Linked DNA regions of Homo sapiens: region 1 is linked to region 2. The links come from fine-mapping of genetic effects on gene expression. Tissue or cell type: gastroesophageal junction. Region 2 holds a variant in brackets; the other region holds the start of a gene. All regions are shown on one strand. Distances are between the middles of the regions.

Evidence for each region. PIP is the estimated chance that this variant, and not a neighbour inherited with it, causes the effect.
Region 1: ZNF268 starts here. The variant in region 2 is fine-mapped to the expression of ZNF268 in gastroesophageal junction (GTEx, PIP above 0.99). The same link has a PIP of 0.9 or more in esophagus mucosa, left ventricle, prefrontal cortex, stomach, transverse colon and visceral fat.

What each region holds. Positions count from the first base shown.
Region 1 is chr12:133,177,596-133,188,326 of GRCh38, forward strand. ZNF268 (zinc finger protein 268) reads left to right here and starts at 3,900. Exons shown (of 6, transcript NM_003415.3): 1 at 3,900-4,091; 2 at 4,351-4,435; 3 at 10,277-10,477. The coding sequence starts at 4,403. RefSeq lists enhancers at 3,618-4,142, 3,738-4,047, 4,088-4,287.
Region 2 is chr12:133,063,727-133,074,457 of GRCh38, forward strand. No RefSeq gene overlaps it. Among named protein-coding and RNA genes, the nearest start is that of ZNF140, 12 kb to the right of the region's middle. The variant C/G (reference allele first, on the strand shown) is at 6,446.

The DNA of each region.
Region 1 (10,731 bases), 110 kb after region 2:
AGTAGCATTTCTGTACCCTAACAACATCTAGCTAAGAACAAAATCAAGAAGGCAATTCTACTTTTAATAGCTACAAAAAGCTCACCTCAGAATACATTTAACCAAAGAGGTGAAAACTCTCTACAAGGAAAGTTACAAAATACTGATGATAGAAATTGTAGATGATATAAACAAATGGAAAAACATCCCATGCTGTTCAGAGGAATTAATAATGTTACAATTATCATACTATCCAAAGCCATCTACAGATTCAATGCACTCCCTATCAAAATATCAACGTCATTCTCCACAGATTTAGAGAAAAAAAATCCTAGGCCGGGTGCGGTGGCTCACAGCTGTAATCCCAGCACTATGGGAGGCCAAGATGGGCATATCATGAGGTCAGGAGTTCAAGACCACCCTGGCCAACATGGTGAAAACCCATCTCTACTAAAAATACAAAAATTAGCCGGGCATGGTGGTGCACACGCGTAATCCCAGCTACTCTGGAGGCTGAGGCAGGAGAATTGCTTGAACCTGGGAGGCAGAGGTTGCAGTGAGCCGAGATCATGACCCTGCACTCCAGCCTGGGTGACAGAGTGAGACTCTGTGTAAAAAAAAAAAAAAAAAAAAAAAAAGAGAAAAGAAAAAGAAAAAGAAAAAAAATCCTAAAATTCATATGCAACCGAGAAAGAGCTCAAACAGCCAAAGCAATCCTGAACAAAAAGAACAAAGCTGGAGGCATAACTTCACCTGACTTCAAATTATACTATAAGGCTATAATAACCAAAACAGCATAGTACTGGTATAAAAACAGACACATAGGTCAATGGAACAGATAGAGATCCCAGAAATAAAGCCACATATCTACAGCCAACTGATCTTTGACAAAGTCAACAAGAACAAGCATGGGGAAAATACAACCTCTTCAATAAATGGTGCTGGGAAAATTGGATTGCCATATGCAGAAGAATGAAACTTGACCCTTATCTCTCGCCATATACAAAAATCAACTCAAGCTGTATTAAAGACTTAAATGGAATACCTGAAACTATAAACATACTAGAAGAAAACCTACGGAAAACCCCTCTGGACATTGGTCTGGGTAAATAATTCATGACTAAGACCTCAAAAGCACATGCAACAAACAGAAAAAGAGAGAAATGGGACTTAAACTAAAAATCTTCTTCATAGTGAAATAAACAGTAAGCAGAGTGAAGAGACACTTGCAGAATGGGAGAAAATTTTTGCAAGCTTTGCATACAAGAGGGGACTAATATCTAGAGTTTACAGGGAACTCAAACAGATCAACAACAACAACGAAACCCAAATAATCCCATTAAGAAGCAGGCAAAGAACACAAATAACACTTTACAAAAGAAGACATACAAATGGCCAACAGGCATATGAAAATATGCTCAACATCATCACTAAACATCAGAGAAATGCAAATTTAAACCACAATGAGGCCGGGCGCTGTGGCTCACGCCTGTAATCCCAGCAGTTTGGGAGGCCGAGGTGAGCAGATCACCTGAGATCAGGAGTTCAAGACCAGTCTGGCTAACATGGCGAAACCACGTCTCTCATAAAAAATACAAAAATTAGCCGGGCATGGTGGTGGGCACCTGTAATCCCAGCTACTTGGGAGGCTGAGGCGGGGAGAATTGCTTGAACCCAGGAGGCGGAGGTTGCAGTGAGCCGAGATCAAGCCACTGCACTCCAGCCTGGGCGACAGAGCGAGGTTGTGGGGGAAAAAAAAGAGATATTATCTTACATCAGTCACAGTAGCTGTTATTAAAAAGACAGGCCGGGCCGGGTGCGGTGGCTCACGCCTGTAATCCCAGCACTTTGGGAGGCCGAGGCGGGCAGATCACGAGATCAGGAGATTAAGACCATCCTGGCTAACACGGCGAAACCCCGTCTCTACTAAAAAATACAAAAAAGTAGCCAGGCGTGGTGGCGGGCCCCTGTAGTCCCAGCTACTTGGGAGGCTGAGGCAGGAGAATGGCGTGAACCCGGGAGGCGGAGCTTGCAGTGAGCCCAGATCGCGCCACTGCACTCCAGCCTGGGCGACAGAGCGAGACTCCGTCTCAAAAGGAAAAAAAAATCAAAACAAACAAAAACAGGCCGAGCTCGGTGGCTCATGCCTGTAATCCCAGCACTTTGGTAAACTGAGGTGACCGGATCACCTAAGGTCGGGAGTTTGCGACCAGCCTGACCAACATGGAGAAACCTGTCTCCACTAAAAATACAAAATTAGCCGGGTGTGGTGGTGCATGCCTGTAATCCCAGCTACTCAGGAGGCTGAGGCAGGAGAATTGCTTGAACCTGGGCGGAGGTTGCGGTGAGCCGAGATCGGGCCACTGCACTCTAGCCTGGGTAACAAGAGCAAAACTCCGTCTCAAAAAATAAAATAAAATAATAAAAATAAAAAGACAAAGAAGATGTTGGTGAGGATGTGGAGAAAAGGAAACTCCTATACACTGTTGGTGAGAAAGTGAAATTAGTATAACCTATGGAAAACAGTGTGGAGAATTCTCAAAGAACTAAAAATAGAATTACCATTTGATAAAGCAATCCTGTTACTGAGTATCTACCCAAAGGAAATCATTATATATATAAAAAAAATACCTGCACTCATATGTTTATCACAGCACTATTCACAATATCACAGGTATGGAATTAACCTAAATGTCCATGAATGGATGAATAAAGAAAATGTGTTATATATACACAATGGAATACTATTCAGCCATAAGAAAGAATGAAATTGTCTTTTGCAGCATCATGGATGGAACTAGTGGCCACTATCTTCAGTGAAACAACTCAGGCACAGAAAGAAAAACACATGTTTTCACTTTAAGTATGAGCTAAAGGATATGTACACATGGATGTAGAGTGTGGGATGATAGACAATGAAGACTCAAAAGGTGTGGGGGGGTTTCAGGGATAATCATAAATTACCTGACTGGTACAATGCATATAACGTACTATAGGGCGTGGATACCTTAAAAGCCTTGACATCACCACTACACAACTGATGCATGTAACAAAATTACACTTGTACCTCATAAATTTATAAAAGTTTTTAAAAGCCAAAAACAAAAGAATTCTAGAAAACTTGTATCTGCCTCTGTGAATGTCACCTCTTCCCAATACTTAAGATCAATAATGATTAGTGGATATTTTCCGTTGGTGCAAAAGTAAGTAATTGCGGCTTTTGCCATTAAAGTAAACCAATATTTTCCAACTGGCCAATACATGATGTTACGAAATCATGCGTGATAAAAGAATCCATTCAAAGTGCAGTGTAGACCAACGGATTTTATGTAATAGAGTAGAAAAAGTTCATCTACGTGGTTTCAGATTGTACACTAACAAAACTATCCCTTGTTCGACTTGTATCTTTATATACTTTAACAAAAACAACATACGCAACAGATTAAACATAGAAGCAGATATGAGAATCCAGCTTTCTAGTAAGTCAGAAAAGACTTAAAAAGCGAAGCCACTCCTTACTAAATTTTTTCTTTTGTAAAATATATGTAATTTTCATTAAAATATTATTTATGTTAACATGTAATGGGAATTTTACGAATCTGTTATTAAAGTGTAAAGCAAAATAAGACTTTTACCATTTCAGTAAAGCAGGGACTAGAACACTTGTAACCTAATTTACATCCCTCCAACCGTTGAGCCATTGGTGTCAAGTATTTTAATTCTCTTTAAAATTTAAAACCTGCAAGCGCGGGAGCTCAGGGACCTGGCCAGGAAGGCCTGAGCTTCCGGGTCATCTTAGCACGCCCCCTCCCGGTGGCCCTTGGCCGGAGCCCTCCGGCGCGGGAGTAACTCCTCGCAGAGGCCTCTGGGAGTTGTAGTTTTTTTGCCTTTGCCTCTCCATGACGCAATTCCTGTGCGACATACGTAGCGGCCGCCATTGTTCCGCGCCGATGGCGAGATCCTTGTTCCTCAGATAGCGTTCATCGCCCGTCGTGGTCAACGGGCCAGCCGAGTCTGGAGTGGTTGCGAACCCTTCTGGCTGCAGATCTGGAGGTGGAGGCAGTACCCTGGACTCTATTCTGCTGCCCCTTCAGGGTTTGGAGGAGCCGGAGGTGCGGAATTCCTCCGGTTTCAAGGCGGCGGGACGGGACAGAACTAATCTGCCTTAGCTCTCTCCTGCTGCTGACCCGGGGCGGTTGCCTGACCCTAACCTGTGTGTTGGTGAGGGTGTGGAGATGGTGAATCCCGTGCTGTGGGAGGGAAGGAGCCTCAGCTCCGAGAATGGCAGGCAGCCCTGGTGCCTCGGACCCTCCCCCTCTGGGTTTGGGGACTGCTGGGTGACCTCTTTCTTCACTGTGCTCTCTCTTCTAGCATCCCTCGCGTCCTGTCACTTCCAGCGAGGCACACAAAACTGACCGTAGGGATGGCCACCAGGGTCCGGACAGCTTCTATTTGGGTGAGTAGGGGTTTTCTTTCATTCTTGAAAAGCTCTCCCTGAATGCCAACGTGTGCGCACTCCATCTACTCCAGTCTGAATTTGCCAGGAGCTTTCTCACCCCACCGCTCTTTTAGGCAACTGGATCGTCATTTATAGCATGTTAGACTTTCCAGAAATGCTTCTTGTCATCCGACTTCCTTTTTTCCTCCTTTCATCAATCTCTTTTCTAACAACTTTGTACGCTGAACTTTGGAGTTAAACAAGGGATACTCACACATCTTTCAGTTTTTTCAGCCTTTATTTACTGAGGGCCTTCTGTATCTGGGATCTTTAAACCTTATTTTGGAAATTACAAACTTTTTTATTCACTTGTTCAACATTTTTTTTTATTGTATTTTGTTTGCTGGACCCTGGGGCAGGTGCTAAAAATGCAAAGATGGGTTGCTTATCATCCCTGTCTTGAAGAACAGTGGTCTAGGAATGGTGGATAAGAAAGACAATGACAAGTTAATGAGTGCTCTGGGAGCAGGCTGTGGAAATACACGGAGACATGCAGGAATGGGTCAGTTTTGGAAGTAAGGACACCCCCTAACCCCTTACTCCCAAATGCTTCAATGATTAAGAGATTCTTAACCTTAGGTTTGAAAGATGACAAACCTAAAGTAGACAAAGGATTAAAACCAGCCTAGGAAAAAGAAGTAACGTGCAAATTTGAGAGGCTTGAAATGACCTCATGTGGTGAACTTTGGGCACTTTAGGGTTGCTAAAATGTTGAGTTTAATGGTGATAGTAGAGTTATATTAAAAAATGAGGCTAGAGCCGTAGGCCTAAGATCATAGAGGGCTTTGAGGACCCCATTAAAAACTTGGATTGTATCACATAGGGCAGGTGGTCCCCAACCCCCACGCTTCAGACTGGTACCAGTCTGTGGTCTGTTAGGAACTGGGGTGCATGGCAGGAGGCGAGTGGCGGTTTAGTGAGCATGACTGCCGGAGCCCCGCCTCCTATCAGAGGCTGCATTAGCTTTTCATAGCACAAACCCTATTGTGAACTGCGCATGCGAAAGATCTAGGTTGCGCACTTCTTATGGGACTCTAATGCCTGATGATCTGAAGTGGAACAGTTTCATCCAGAAGCCATCGCCGCACCCGACTGCCCGTCCATGGAAAAATTGTCCTCCACAAAACGAGTCCCTGGTTGGGGACTGTTGGTATAGGGGAAGGAGTTTACTTATTGAAGTGTTTTCACAACGGATTTGAGGGTAGAACAGTCTAGTCTGCAGCAGGTAAGAGAATATAAGGGTTTAAGTAAATTAGTGGTTTTGAGAAAGGAGAGGAGGTGGCTGGGTGCAGTGGCTCCCACCTGTAATCCCTGTTACTCGGGAGGCTGAGACAGGAGAATCGCTTGAACCCAGGAGGCAGAGGTTGCAGTCAGCCGAGATCGCGCCACTGCACTCCAGCCTGGGTGACAGAGCAAGACTCTGTCTCAAAAAAAAAAAAAGGAGAGGAGGTAAAGAGGCAGAAGAAATTAGATTTCATAACTAGTTGGGTGCAGTGCTAAGAGAGGCAGAAAAGCCAGGGATGACAACTGGAGTTCTACTCTGTGGGCCTGGTTGGGAGTGTCACCATTTGCTGAGTAAGGGAAGACTGTCAGAATTGTGATTGGTAGAGGGGGAAGATTTCAGTTTTGTATGGATTGGCTCCTCTAGGTAGAGGTTGCAAATTAGGTGTGGCCAAAGTAGCTCAGGGAGAATGTGTACCCTAAGAAGAGAACTGAGGACAGTGGTCAGGGAAATGACAAGAGAAAGCAGGGGAAGAGGTGTTGAAGACTGAGATGGAACCCAAGAAAAGTAAGACAAAATAGAGACATGTAATTCACACTTAAAGAAATGGAAACCTCAAAAATGCTTGTCAAGTGACATGTATGAGGGAGATCAAGTAATATTAGATCATTGTCTTAGTCTGTTTGTGCTACTGTAACAAAATATCACAGACTGAGGAACTTATAACAGATACTACTTTCTCACAATTCTGGAGGCTGACAAGTTGAAGATCAAGGTGCTGGTGAATTTGGTATCTGATGAGGCCTGCTTTCTTGTTTTCTTTTTTTTTTTGGAGACAGTCTCTCTCTGTCCCCAGGCTGGAGTGCGGTGGCGCGATCTTGGCTCACTGCAACCTCTGCCTCCCGGGTTCAAGTGATTCCCCTGCCTCAGCCTCCCAAATAGGACTACAGGCGTGTGCCACCACGCCCAGCTAATTTTTTTTTTGTATTTTTAGTAGAGACGTGGTTTCATTGTGTTGGCCACAATGACCTCGATCTCCTGACCTCATGATCCACCTGTCTCAGCCTCCCAAAGTGCTGGGATTACAGGCGTGAGCCACCGCACCCGGCTCTGCTCTCTGCTTTCAAGATGGCACTTTCTTGCTACATCCTTACATGGTGGAAGGGGGCAAAAAGGGAAGAATGCTGTGTCCTCACATGGCCAAAGAGATGAAAGGGCCAGGCAGCTCTCTGAAACCTCTTTAAGAGGGTATTAATCCCATTCCTGAAGGAGAGCCGTCATGACTTAATCACTATTAAAAGGCCGCACCTCTTTATTTATTTATTTATTTGTTTATTTTTTTGAGACTGAGTCTCGCTCTGTCTTCCAGGCTGGAGTGCAGTGGCTATCTCTGCTCACCACAACGTCTGCTTCCCGAGTTCAAGTGGTTCTCTTGCCTCAGCCTCCTGAGTAGCTGGGATTACAGGTGCGCACCACCATGCCCAGCTAATTGGCCCCACCTCTTAATACCATCACAATGGGGGTTAAGTTTCAACATGAATTTTGGAGGGATGCAATCATTGAAACCGTAGCAGTCATAAAAACCTAAATGGAATTTAGTGGTGATGGGCTGTGTGTGGTGGGTCACGCCTGTAGTCCCAGCACTTTGGGAGGCCAAGGTGGGCAGATCATCTGAGGTCAGGAGTTCGAGACCAGCCTGGCCAACATGGCGAAACCTCGTCTCTACTAAAAATATGAAAATTAGCTGGGCGTGATGGTGGGCACCTGTAATCCCAGCTACACGGGAGGCTGAGGCAGAAAAATCGCTTGAACCCCAGGAGTAGGAGGTTGCAGTGAGCCAAGATCACGCCACTGCACTCCAATCTGGCGACAGAGTGAGACTCTGTCTCAAAAAAAAAAAAAAAAACAAAGAATGTGTGGTGGCTACTTTAGCTTGGGTGCTCAGGGAAGGCCCCCACTGAGGAAGTGACGTCTAAGCTAAGTCTGAGTTACAATAGCAAGCCAGCCTTGGGAAGAGCAGGTAGAAGAACATCCAGGATGGGAACAGCCAGGGCCAAGGCTGCGAGGCAAGAGAAGTTTGATGCCTTGGTAACCTGGAAGGAAGGACTTTGTGACTGGGGTAGGGAGTGAGAGAGAGGAGAGCAGATGAACACAGGTGCAGAGGCCAGATCAGGGAGTGAGAGAGAGGAGAGCAGATGAACAGAGGTGCAGAGGCCAGATCAGGTAACCTGGAAGGAAGGACTTTGTGACTGGGGGTAGGGAGTGAGAGAGAGGAGAGCAGATGAACACAGGTGCAGAGGCCAGATCAGGCTGGGAAGCCATGGGGCCCGGGAGAGTGTGTGGCGCTAAGACAGGGAGCAACGTGAGCTGCTTAGGGTTTCCAAAGACCCTTCTGAGTGCTGAGTGGGGGACAGGTTGTAGGTGGGCAAGAGTAGGCACAGAAAGAGGGGGAAGCCAGAGACTGACTAGGTGACCACGTTCAGACAAGAGGTAGCAGGGATTTTGTGTAGTGTGGTAGAAATGGAGACACTGGTCAGAGTTGGGGGATGTTTGAAGGTGGAGTCCTCTTTTCTAAGAACCAGCATATGCTTTTTATCTTGTTGATTGTCATTTTGTAGTGTGGTTTATTTTCATTAAGTATTCCTGGTTTTATGTTTTGTTTTGTTTTCTTTTGCCGTTTCAACCAAATGTTAATGCTCAGTGTCTACTACGTATGAGGTTCTGTGCTAAATCATTTATTAGGTATTATCACCTTAAAACTTCACAGTAGCCCTAGCCCCAGGTGGTGAATACTGTTTTTCTCCTTTGATGGGTAAGGGTACTGAGGTCCAGAAAGGGCTAGTTGGAGACCAGGTGGCACCCCTGGTCAATGTAGAGCCAGGACTTGAACCCAGATATTCTGGCTCTACATGCATTTTCCTGGCCTGTGTACCTTATTTAGTCTCTGGATGTAGGTTGAGGATTTCTTGAGGCAGAGATTCTAGGATCCTAGACCCTGAAATGTAGAGTAAAATGTGGAGCGGGTAGACTGTGCCCAGTGTACACAGAGAAGGCTCTGAGACATAAGCTGTTGGTCTCCAGGGAATAATCTTTTTTTTTTTTTTTGGAGATGGAGTCTCACTCTGTTGCCCAGGCTGGAGTACAGTGGCACTCACTGCAACCTCTGCTTCCCAGGTTCAAGCAATTCTCCTGCCTCAGCCTCCCAAGTAGCTGGGGCTACAGGTGTACGCTGCCACGCCTGGCTGATTTTTTTTTTGTATTTTAGTAGAGACGGGGTTTTACTGTGTTGCCCAGGCTGGTCTCGAACTCCTGAGTTCAGGCAACTCACCTGCCTCGACCTCTCAAAGTTCTGGGATTACAGGCATGAGCCACTGCGCCCAGCCTCCAGGGAATAATCTTAATGTCCATTAATGGTGAATGATGAAACGTGATGGAATACTATTCACCAACAAAAAGAACAAACTATTGATATGTGCTATGACAAGCATAAACCTTGAAAGCATTATGCGAAGTGAAAGAAGCCAGACACAAAAGACTAGATATTATATGATCCCATTTATATGGCACACACATGCGTATACGTATACTTGCAATCCCACTTCTTTTTTGTAACACAAAAGCTAGCTTTCTGTACGTACTATTCTTCCCCTTGTCATTATCACTAAGAGTATATATTGATCATTGTATTATACCAATAGTGGTACATAGAGGTTGTTCGCTCCCTCTTCCCTATCTCTTATCACCTTTTACTGGCTGTATGGATGGCCCATAGTGTTTTCAACCAGTTATGTAGTTACAGATATTTGGGTTATAAAAATGCCTTGGTGAACAGCCTTTTCATGGCATTTCATTCATTGTTTCTTTTTCTAATTTTTTATTCCTTTTTTTTTAGGCTTTCCCCACTTTTCACCTGTGCCGCCTTCTAGGTCGTTGGCGCTTTTTTATGTTCCTCCTAAATTTAATCTTCATTTCTGAATTTTTTTCCTAATTTATTTATTTATTCTGATATTTCTCATTTCACATTTTCCAGATTTCACATTTCTAAGCATCTACTTTCTAGGCTCTTTTATTTTTTATATATCTGTCCTTTCAAAGTTTCGTTTTTCTGATTTCTTTTACTTCATTTTGAAATATTATGTTACAATTTTTTATGTGGTCAGATATTTTGGTTATGTTTTTATTGTCTGTCAGAGCCTCGTTTGGTTCCTTATTCCCTCATAATAATGTTGTGTGGGTATTCCTACTGCCCTACCAAACCAGCCTATTAAGACGCCATTTGGTTTGTGGCAGGAAGTCCGTTTGGAGGCTAGGATGAGCCAGGACAGTTTTCTCTAGCTTTGCTGTTTGAGGGTCGTACCTGTATTTTTATCATGAAGGGCTCAAAACTTGACTTGAACTCTTGGTGCTAAGCCTTGTCAGGAAGCCATTTCTTTTCTGCCTCTAACCCTGCATTTCCTGAAGTTAAACCTGCCTTGTTTTCTAACGTGTTTCTCTCACATTTATGTGATGTGACCCCTATTTCCTTTTCCCCAAAGGAAATAATGCTCGCTAAAGTAAATTTGCTCTTGAGTCCACAGGTCCCACCTCTCCAAGAACGAAACAGTTCATGGGATAGGATCAGAAAGCTCCAAGGTCAGGAATCCATCTTGGGCCAAGGGACTCCTGGTCTGCAACCTCTCCCTGGAACACCCAGGCAGAAGCAGAAGAGTCGCAGAATAGAGAAAGTCCTAGAGTGGCTGTTTATTTCCCAAGAGCAGCCAAAAATCACCAAGTCCTGGGTGAGCTTCTCATTTGTTTATTCCTAGTGTTTTCTTTATTACCTTTTTTTTTTTTGGTGCAGAGAGGGATGGAGATCCTTAGGTCAGAGGGTTAAGTTAATCACTCCTCAGTTCAGTTCAAAACCCCCCCACTTTTTTTTTTGAGACAGGGTCTTGGTCTGTTGCCCAGAGTGGAGCGCAGTGGTGCAATCATAACTCACTGCAGCCTCAAACTCCAGGCTCAAGTGATCCTCCAGCCTCAGCCTCTTGAGTAG
Region 2 (10,731 bases):
CTGATGACTCTCCCTGCCCTGGGTAAGTCCCTCCTTGAAGAGAGATCTGAGTCATAATGCATGTTTCTGATCACACAGTCCATCCTTCCCACCACTTAGATCCCCTTGTCTATGTTACATTTGGGAAGCTGCTGCTCTAGGATTCTGGTGGGGCTCTCTCTGAAGAGACACTAAGAAAAGGAAGATTCATAGGACAAACCACAGCCCCTAATGTTGCAGTTGCTTTCTGTATTAGTCACTGTAGATTCTCATCACACCCTGTTAGCACCTCTGTGGACATAAGTGGCTTATGTGGTAGCTTGTCCCAGACCCTTATTCCTGAGGGGGTCAGAGCCCTGGCCACCATGTCCTTTTCAGATCCAAGTTGCTGTATTTGTCCACTTACATCACAATGGGGCAAGGAAGTTCAAAGAGGCACCTAGGAGGGCCACCTGAGTTCCACTCCTTTTTTCTCCTGCCCTGTTGTGTAACAGCAGCCATACCTGCTGATGATCAGTGTCAATGCCCCAGCAAAGAGTGGCTTTTCTGGCATGCTGGTCCTTGGACACAAGGGTACAAAGTTCCATGCTGTATCTGTAGTTTATAATTTAGAACACTCTGTCCTCAGGTGGAAAGTGCCCCCTCTGGGGCTAATCCTTGATGTTTGACCTTTATACGGTGCTGTGTTTTCAAAGAGAAAGAACACATGGGTTTGGGTACTGCAGTGTGGAAGCAGGAAGATCACAGATGATCCTCTAGGGGGACCTTGTGCTTCCCATAACCACAGCTCTGAGGTTGAGAGAGTTAATATTGCTCTGGGAGCAAAACTAGTTATATCATTGTCCATTTTGTGTACATTGTTTTTCTTTCTTTTCTTTTTTTTTTTTTTTTTGAGGCAGAGTCTCACTCTGTCGCCCAGGCGGGAGTGTGGTGGCACGATCTCGGCTCACTGCAAGCTCCGCCTCCCAGGTTCACGCCATTCTCCTGCCTCAGCCTCCCGAGTAGCTGGGACTACAGGCACCTGCCACCATGCCCAGCTAATTTTTTGTATTTTTAGTACAGATGGGGTTTCACCATGTTAGCCAGGATGGTCTCGATCTCCTGACCTCGTGATCTGCCTGCCTCAGCCTCCCAAAGTGCTGGGATTACAGGCATGAGCCACTGTGCCCGGCCGTGTATGTTGTTCATTTCATTGCCCACATCATTTCACTTGATATGAATGCAAACATTTATGCTTTTTTCTGAATCGGGATATTAAAATGCATTTACTGGATCAGTGGCCATATACCATGTATCTGAGGCTGTATTAATCTCTTCTAGTGGAAATATCACATCTGGCCTAATGGCTGTGATCAGGACTACTACTTAGTTGAGCTTGAAGTTGAATTGCAGTTATGAGTAGTTTTTACTAGAGATATGATGGGAACCATCACTCCTAAATCTTTTATATCCTGAAGGGTGTCTCTAATCTCTACTATCCCCCCAGAGATTGTTCTTATTTACTATCTTGGGTGGATTGTAGTTTGAGGCTTCCACGTGGCCTTTCCTCATGCAATAGTTTTTTTTTCCTGCAAGCAAGGACCTAATAACCACTTGTGATACAGCAGATGTGAGCTGCTTTTTGTGCAGCCAAAGGCCCTCTAACTTTCACAACTGCAATCAATTGTCTATTACTTGTCCTCAACTGTTTGTTATCTTTATGTAGAGCATCAGTGGCTTTCAGCAGTAGCCACTGTATTAGTCCGTTCTCATACTGCTATAAAGAAATACCACAGACTGGGTAATTTATAAAGAAAAAGAGGTTTAATGAACTCACAGTTTCACATGGCTGGGAAGTCCTCACAATGAAGGAGGAGCAAAGACACGTCTTACATGGTGACAGGCAGGAGAGCGTGTACAGAGGAACTGCCCGTATAAAACCATCAGATCTCATGAGATTTATTCACTACCACAAGAACAGCATGGGAAAAACCCACCTCCATGATACAATTACCTTCCCCCAGGTCCCTCCCACGACACGGGGGGATGATGGGAGCTACAACTCAAGATAAGGTTTGGCTGGGGACACAGCCAAAACATATCAGCACCCAAACCTGTTATTTAATAATAATCTATCTCCTAAGTTCAAACATCTGTTACATAACACAGGTGCTTCCTCTTAATTTACTATTGGTGAACTATTTAATGATTGAACCACCTCCTTATGCCGGGGCCTCTTTGTGCTCCACCTGCCACAGTGGTGGGGTTTGTATGTCAGCTGGATAATGAGTAATCCAGTTCCAAAACTTTGGCCCATCCTTTGCTATTTTGGAGCACCTCAATAATGGTACAAGCTGCAATCTGTTGGGTTTTCTGAAAGTTGACTCTGAGATATACTTTGGAGGTATTCACTGTAGATCAGTATCTGTGAAAGGAAAGAGAAGGAAGTAGGATTAAGCAAAAGAAAAGGTTAAACTGCAATGCAGATCCTACAAAACTGCTCCCAACTTAGAATGGATCTCTGTAGTGAGTGTTGCCTGACAGGGCTCATGTGTCAGGCAAGCATGGTCTAGTCTATGTTCACACCTCTTTCAGTCACTGAATACAGCCTGACCTGGAAGGGAGGTGACTTTGGATGAAGCTCTTCTGCAGCAAAGGCTGACCATGAAGGGCTTGACAGGCGAGGGCTGTCTGCTAACTCCCCACACCTGTACTACAAGCCAGGATGGTCTCAATCTCCTGACCTTGTGATCCGCCCGCCTCGGCCTCCCAAAGTGCTGGGATTACAGGCGTGAGCCACCGCACCCGCCCCCTTCCGTACCTTTTAAGTGCCTGGGTCATCACACCAACCAGGTGTTTTTCTCCATTTGGACATTTTCCCAGGTAACTGCCAGTGAAATATGTAGCAGCTGGGCTGCCACGTTTGCCAGAGTCTCTCTGGAATGGGATATTTCTTGTCAGCTCAAAGTAAAATGCAAGCACAAATATTTACCACAGAGGAGTTCCACACTGAGCAGAAATGATGCCAGGCCATCCTATCCCCCATGGTGCTCACGCACTGGCTGGCAGCTGCCTGAAAAGGTCACAGTCTCAAATACTGTGCTAACTCCCAAAAGCAATGAATCCCTCCAGGAGAATGGGAAGTATTTTCTTGAAAGGTATTTGGAGTAATGCACCTGTAAGGATCCCACAATTGAAGGAAGAAAGGCCGGGTGGTGAGTCTTAATTGGCAGAAGCCAGGGATTCACATTTATTATAATAAATAGTAAGGTCAGTGTGACAGCCAAGAGGGTTTGATTCACAGGAACTTGTGAAGATGGTTAGTAAAACATAACTTCCCCAAGGATAAACTAGATAAGACAGGCAACCAGGAAATTTGTTAGTAAACATAGTCCAAGAAGATGAGAATGGGTGAGCAAGAGGCTAAGGGCAGTTGCCTCAGTAAAATGCCATGATCCTTGAACTTGAGCTAATATTCAGATCAGAAAGACACTAAAGAGGTAGGTGGGTCCCCAAGGGGAAAGACCCTATGACACCACGGCAAATATATACTGTGACGACACCTCCAGCCCTTCGTCAAAGACTGATGGGCACTTACTTGGTTCATTATACACTGGGTAAAGGGTAATATCCAGAGATTTTAAAGACTATTATACGCAAAGTCTGAGTTGATACTGATACCAGACTTTCATAGCATTATCATGCCTCCGCCAGCATGAGAGCGTATTTAGGCCTGGTCATACATTTAGGCTTACTGTGGGGCCAATGGTCCCAGTGACCCTGACCCATGCATTACTCATTTGCTTGGTCTTCGAATGTATAATTGGGATTGACATCCTTGGCAGTTGGAGTACTTTCTACATTGGACTATTGGTCTTTGGTTAAAAGCCACTATAGTGGGGAAGGCCAGGTGAAAACCTCTGAATCCCACCCAGAAGGTAAGATCATAAATTAAAAACAATATTGCATTTTGGGGAGAAGAGTTGGAGGGGGTGACAGAGATGAGTGCGACTCGTAAAGACCTAAAGAATGTGGTAGTAGTGCCCCTGGGATATTAACAAATCCTAGGGAATGACTACAGGTGAGCTCAGCCAAGTCCATGTCCCACTTGCAGACATGACATTGTTTCTAAGGCAGATTTAAGTGGCCTTGGGTATGTGGCAGTGGCCTTTGATTTGGAAAACCAATTCTTTTTATTCAATTCAGGAAAAAGGATCAGAAAATGTAGCATTAACATGAGACAGACAATACTGTGCATTCACAGTTTTACCCAGGGCTGTCAGCCATCATAATATAATCTGAATAGACTGAACATTTTATAGAACATCACAGTAATACACATGGCAGCAAAGTCATGTCAGTCAGGCAGGATAGGTAGGAAGTGGCCAGCAGGTTGGAGACACCACATGCATTCTAGAGGACTGGAGACAAACCGTATAAAAATCCAGCAAGTTACCACAAAAGATAGCATGTAAGTCACAGTTTTTCCACACTGCTTTATCAATTCTTGAGGACGTTTTTGTAGATTTTTTCCTACTAATTATATCTATTTATTGACATGAAATTACAGATATGTTCCTACTGATTTTAAAATCTCAGCTGGGCATGCTGGCTCATGCCTGTAATTCTAGCACTTTGGGAGGTCAAGGTGGGAGGATCGCTTGAGTCCAGGAGTTCGAGACCAGCCTGGGCAAAAAAACAAGTGAGACTCCATCTCTACAAAAAATTAAAAAAATTAGCCGGGTGTGGTTGTGCTTGCCTGTAGTCCCAGCTACCTGGGAGGCTGAGGCGGGAGGATTGCTTTAGCCTGAGAGTTTGAGGTTGCAGTGAGCCATGAACACACCACTGAACCTTAGTTGGGTGACAGAGTGAGACCCCATCTCAAAAAAAACCCCAAATTTGGAATCTCTTCTGTATTTGTAGTTATATTGCTTTTTTTCATTAATAATATTTATTTTTTACTTTTATTCTTGTTATATCTTGGCAAAATTTGTTTATTTATTAGCTTTTACAATAAACAAGACTTTGGTTTTATTGATCTATTTGTATCTTTGTTTCTACTTAGCTGATTAGCTGAAAGCTGGACTTGACAGAGGCCAATATTAAGGTAAAATAGAGATGTCAAAAATTTCTTCGCATAAATCTAAGGATTTAAGGAAATATTGTTAATATAGATTTGTCATAAGTAACCCACTCACTCATTCCTCCGATTTTGACCCCCAACAGGGGCCAGAGGACAGTTCTTTCACCATGAGAAATTACTTGGTGAAGGGAGAACCAGCCTCATGTAAAAATGTGGGTATAGTTATGTGTTATAGATACTGTCATTAAAATGAGATTCCTGATGTCAAAGGGGATGATAGGTTCTGCAATGGAACAGTTCTCAGCAGAATTTACTCACAAGGAGCAAGACAGGCATGGTTAGTGCAGGAGGTTCATGGTCATAATGGTGATGAGAATTGTTAAACCTACATAAACCTTTGGAAGTGGTTAACTGATCAGGGATCTTAAAGGCCAAAATAGATGAACAGCTTGTGAATGTCTTACCTTATTTTGAGAACCCAAAATATAGAAGAAACAAGGTATCTTTGAAAATGGACCTTGCAGTTGCATCACAAGCACACACTGTACAACTTGGGATCCATCAAGAGGCCTATTTGTTAGAATAGAATTTCCAAGTGTGTTCTATGCTGCTTTCCAAATCCAACGAGGTCTACCAAGCATTTTATCTCTGCATGTGTGGGGTACAAATAGCAATAACTTGCCTTTTCCCTTAAAGGGATGTCTTAGCATTCCTCCATTCACTGAACTAAAAACTTCATAAATGTCAGGCCCTTAAATCTTCGAGCACATATATGTATTATTAGGCCACTTTCGGTACTTGCTACTTCTTACATAAAAATTACAGATCTGGGCCGGGCGCGGTGGCTCATGCCTGTAATCCCAGCACTTTTGGAGGCTGAGGCGGGCGGATCATGAGGTCAGGAGATCGAGACCATCCTGGCTAACACGGTGAAATCCCGTCTCTACTAAAAAAAAAAATACAAAAAATTTGCCGGGCATGGTGGTGGGCACCTGTAGTCCCAGCTACTCGGGAGGCTGAGGCAGGAGAATGGCGTGAACCTGGGAGGCAGAGCTTGCAGTGAGCTGAGATCACGCCACTGCACTCCAGCCTGGGCGACAGAGCAAGACTCTGCCTCAAAAAAAAAAATTTCAGATCTGTTCTCCACAGGGCCCACGCACCATCTCTGGTTCAACTGTTGCTTTCTGTGGGGTCAGACACGCTGTGTTTTAAATATTCCTTTAACAAATTTTAGTCTGTTTATTTGCTTTGCTTTTTTTTTCTTCTCAGATAGGGTCTCACTCTGTCATCCAGGCTGGAGTGCAGTGGAGCTCTGGTTCACTGCAGCCTCGACATCCCAGGCTCAGGTGATCCTCCCACCTCAGCCTCCCGAATAGCTGGGTTACAGGTGCACACCACCATGCC[C/G]GAATAACTTTTAGTAGAGATGAGTTTCACCATGTTTCCCAGGCTGGTCTCTAAGTCTTGGGTGCAAGCAATCTGCCTGCCTTGGCTTCCCAAAGTGCTGGGATTACAGGCTTGAGCCACTGCTATCAATTCTTGTTATTTCTTCAAAACATTTAGAATTTTTATTGATATAATTTGCATAGAGCCAGGCATGGTGGCTCATGCCTGTAATCCCAGCACTTTGCAAGGCTGAGGCAGATGGATCACTTGAGGCCAGGAATTCAAGACCAGCCTGGCCAACATGGTGAAACCACGTCTCTACTATAAATACAAAAAATTAGCTGGCCATGTGGCAGGTGCCTGTAATCCCAGCTACTCAGGAGGCTGAGGCAGGAGAATCACTTGAACCCAGGAAGTGGAGGTTGCAGTGAGCCGAGATTGTGCCACGGCACTCCAGCCTGGGTGACAGAGCGAGACTCTGTCTCAAAAAAAATTGCATACAAATAAGTATACTTACTTTTCTTTTTTTTCTTTAGAGATTGGGTCTCGCTATGTTTCCTAGGTTGGACTTGAACTCCTATGCTGAAGTGATTGTCCTGCCTCAGCCTGCCTAGTAGTTGGAACTAAGGTGCACACCCCACCACATCTGGCTAAGTGTACATATTTCTAATGTATAGTTCAAGTTCTATGAGCTTTGAAAAATGTCTTTGGCTGTGCAACCACAGCTCCTGTCAAGATGTAGAACATTTCCTTTACTCCAAAATATTCCCTTGTTTCTCTTCCCGGTCAAATCTCACTCCCATCACTGACCCCAGGTAACCACCAATCTCCCTTCTAATACTATAGATTATTTTTATCTTTTCTATAATTTTATATAAATGGAAATTATGCAAAAAGTATTTGTTTTTGTGTGGTTACTTCCACTCTGGTGTTTTTGGGATTTGTGCGTGTTGTGTGGGCATCAGCGGTTTGTTTCTTTTTATTGCTGATTATTCCTTTGTATGAATATACCCAGTTGTCTGTCTGTGCACCTGTTGGTGGACATTTGGGTTGTTTCAGATTTTCGGCTATGAAGAATAAAGCTGAGATACCACATTACACCCATCATAATGGCTAAACAAAACACTGCCAATACCAAGTGCTGGCAATAATGTGGAGGAACCAGAACTCTCAGACGTTGCTAGTGGGAATTAAAAAAAAAAAAACACTTTGGAAAACAGTTTGGCAGTTTCTTAAAAGTTAAATATATGCTGGCCATATGATTCAGCAATTCTACTCTTCTGTATTTACCAAGGAAAATGAAAACATGTGTCTCCAAAGACTTATACACTAGTGTTCACAATATCATTTTAAGAAATGTTTAGGCTGATCTCTTCTGATCTCTGCTGCTGAAGCTATAAACTGAGGATCAGAGAAAAGGAGAAAATGAGTCATTAAAAGAACCTTGAGGGGGATATATATATACTTATTCTTATATCTATATCTCTCTATATACAGATCTTATATATATAATATAGAGAGATCATATATATATATCCTTATTCTTAAAAATACATCCAGAGATGACTTCATGTGGCAGAGCCCTATTGAAGAGAAGCATCCTCTATGTGTTCTCTAGGCTACTGAAAACAATTTGATTTTAAAATTCAGTTTAATTTAATTTTTTTGGGGGGGGCATGGAGTTTCGCTCTTGTTGCCCAGGCTGGAGTGCAATGGCACGATCTCGGCTCACCGCAACCTCCGCCTCCTGGTTTCAAGTGATTCTCCTGCCTCAGCCTCCTGAGTAGCTGGGAGTACAGGCATGCACTACCATGCCCGGCTAATTTTGTATTTTTAGTAGAGACAGGGTTTCTTCATGTTAGCCAGGCTGGTCTCAAACTCCCAACCTCTGGTGATCCGCCCGCCTCAACCTCCCAAAGTGCTGGGATTACAGGCGTGAGCCACCGCACCCAGCCAATTTAATTATTAGAGATAGGGTCTCACTCTGTCACCCAGGCTAGAATGCAGTGGTACGATCATAGCTCACTGCAGCCTTCAACTCCTGTGTTGAAGTGATCCTGCTGGCTCAGCCTCCCAAGTAGTTAGAACTACAGATGCACACTACCATGTCTGGCTAATTATTTTTTGTAGAGATGGGGATCTCGCTATGTTGCCCAGGTTGGTCTTGAACTCCTGGCCTCAAGTGATTCTCCTGCCTTGGCCTCTCAAACTGCTGGGATTACAGGAATGAGCCACTATGTCCAGCTCAAAGCACGTTTTATCCAATACATGTTGTTTGGACCTACAACCAAGCAGTTTGTACAAAATAATAATGTTGCATCCCTATATCACACTAAAAAAGACAAATGCCAGAAAGGATAATTCTACAATTGGCACATAAGAAACAGTACAGTAGCTCACACCTGTAGTCCCAGCACTTTAGGAGGCCAAGGTGGGAGGATTGCTTGAGCCCAGGAATTGATATCAGCCTGGGCAACATAGGGAGACCCTGTCCCTACAAAAAATAAAAATTAGCTGGGCAAGGTGGCATAGGCCTGTAGTTCCAGCTACTTGGGAGGCTGAGGTAGGAGGATCACTTGAGTCTGGGAGGTTGAGGCAGCAGTTAGCCATGATTGCACCACTGCACTCCAACCTAGGTGACAGAGTGAGACCCTGTCTCAAAAAAAGTAAAAACATTATATATAGTTATATTAATATCTATAATGTGGGTGAAAAAAATGTTAAAACATACACTAAGGAGAATAACTATAAAACATAGATTTCACTTGCATAAAACTTAAGGTTATAGAAAGTAAAACTGTCTCCTGTAAGTCTTTATTGGCTAATTTATGAAAAATGTATACAATGAAACTGTGCACAGACGTTTACAAAAAAAATTGAATATACTAATTCAAAACATATTTTATGAACCTTTACCTACCATGTACTACCTATAATGTTCCACGCAATAGGGTGAAAGTCAGTAAGAAAAGATTTCTTCTGTCACAGAGTTTATATTTTAACAAGAGACATATATATATATATGTAAATATGTACATATATGTATATAAAAGTGTATGTATATATACATACACTTTTTAATTATATATACATACTTTTAAATATTTGAATAAATGCTATGATAAAACAAAACAGGGTAATATGATACAGATTGATTTAAATGTGAGGAAAACTGCAACTGGTAGTTTTTTAAAAATCTTATTCAAGCTTATTTAATTTTTAATTTTTTTTTTGAGACGGAGTCTTGCTCTGTCACCCAGGCTGGAGTGCAATGGCACGATCTTAGCTCACAGCAACCTCCGCCTCCCAGGTTCAAGCAGTTCTCCCACCTCGGCCTCCCGAGTAGCTGGGACTACAGGTGTGCACCACCACACCCGGCTAATTTTTGTATTTTTAGTAGAGACGGGGTTTCATCACATTGGCCAGACTGCTCTACAACTCCTGAGTTCAAGTGATCCACCCATCTCAGCCTCCCAAAGTGCCAGGATTACAGGCGTGAGCCACCATGCCCGGCCTTAATTTTTAAATTTTAAATTTAATTTTATTTTAGATTCAGGGAGTACTTGGTGCATGTTTGTTACCTGGGTATATTGCATTCTGGTGGAGATTGGGCTTCTAGCATAGCCATTACCGAAATGGTGAACATATAATTGGTAGTTTAATAGGTCTTTTTAAGAAGGTGAATTTGAGTGGAAATACTAGTGTTCTAGCAGAGAGGAGTAACTCGTGAGAATTATCTTAGTATATTTAAGAAACAGAAAGAAGAAAAAACAAGAATTTACAGTATACTCACAGTGATATATACTTGTGTGTCTGTGTGTTTCCTATTTTTATACATAAGCATTATGTGGGACTTTTATTTTTTATACATAAGCGTTATGTGGGACTTTTATTTTTTATACATAAGCATTATGTGGGACTTCTATTTTTTATTTTCTGTTTCTTCCTTCTGCTTATTACTGTTTTTCCATTTTCTTGCTTTCCTGTGGGCTACTTGAACTTATTTTAGAATTCCAGTTTTTAGCTATTGAAAGTATTTTTGAATATAGCTTTGTGGTTTCAATAGGTAGTATGATATATATGCCTAATGTCACAATCTACAGGTATTGATATGTTACAACTTTGACTAAAGTGTAAAAACCTCTCTTCCATTTAGGTCCCTTTACTCTTCTTCTTGCTGTTAGAGACAGGGTCTCACTATGTTGCCCAGGCTGGTCTCAAACTCCTGGCCCCAAGCAAGCCTCCCACCTCAGCCTCCCAAAGTGCTGGGATTGCAGGTGTGAGCCACTGCACCTGGCCCTTTCACT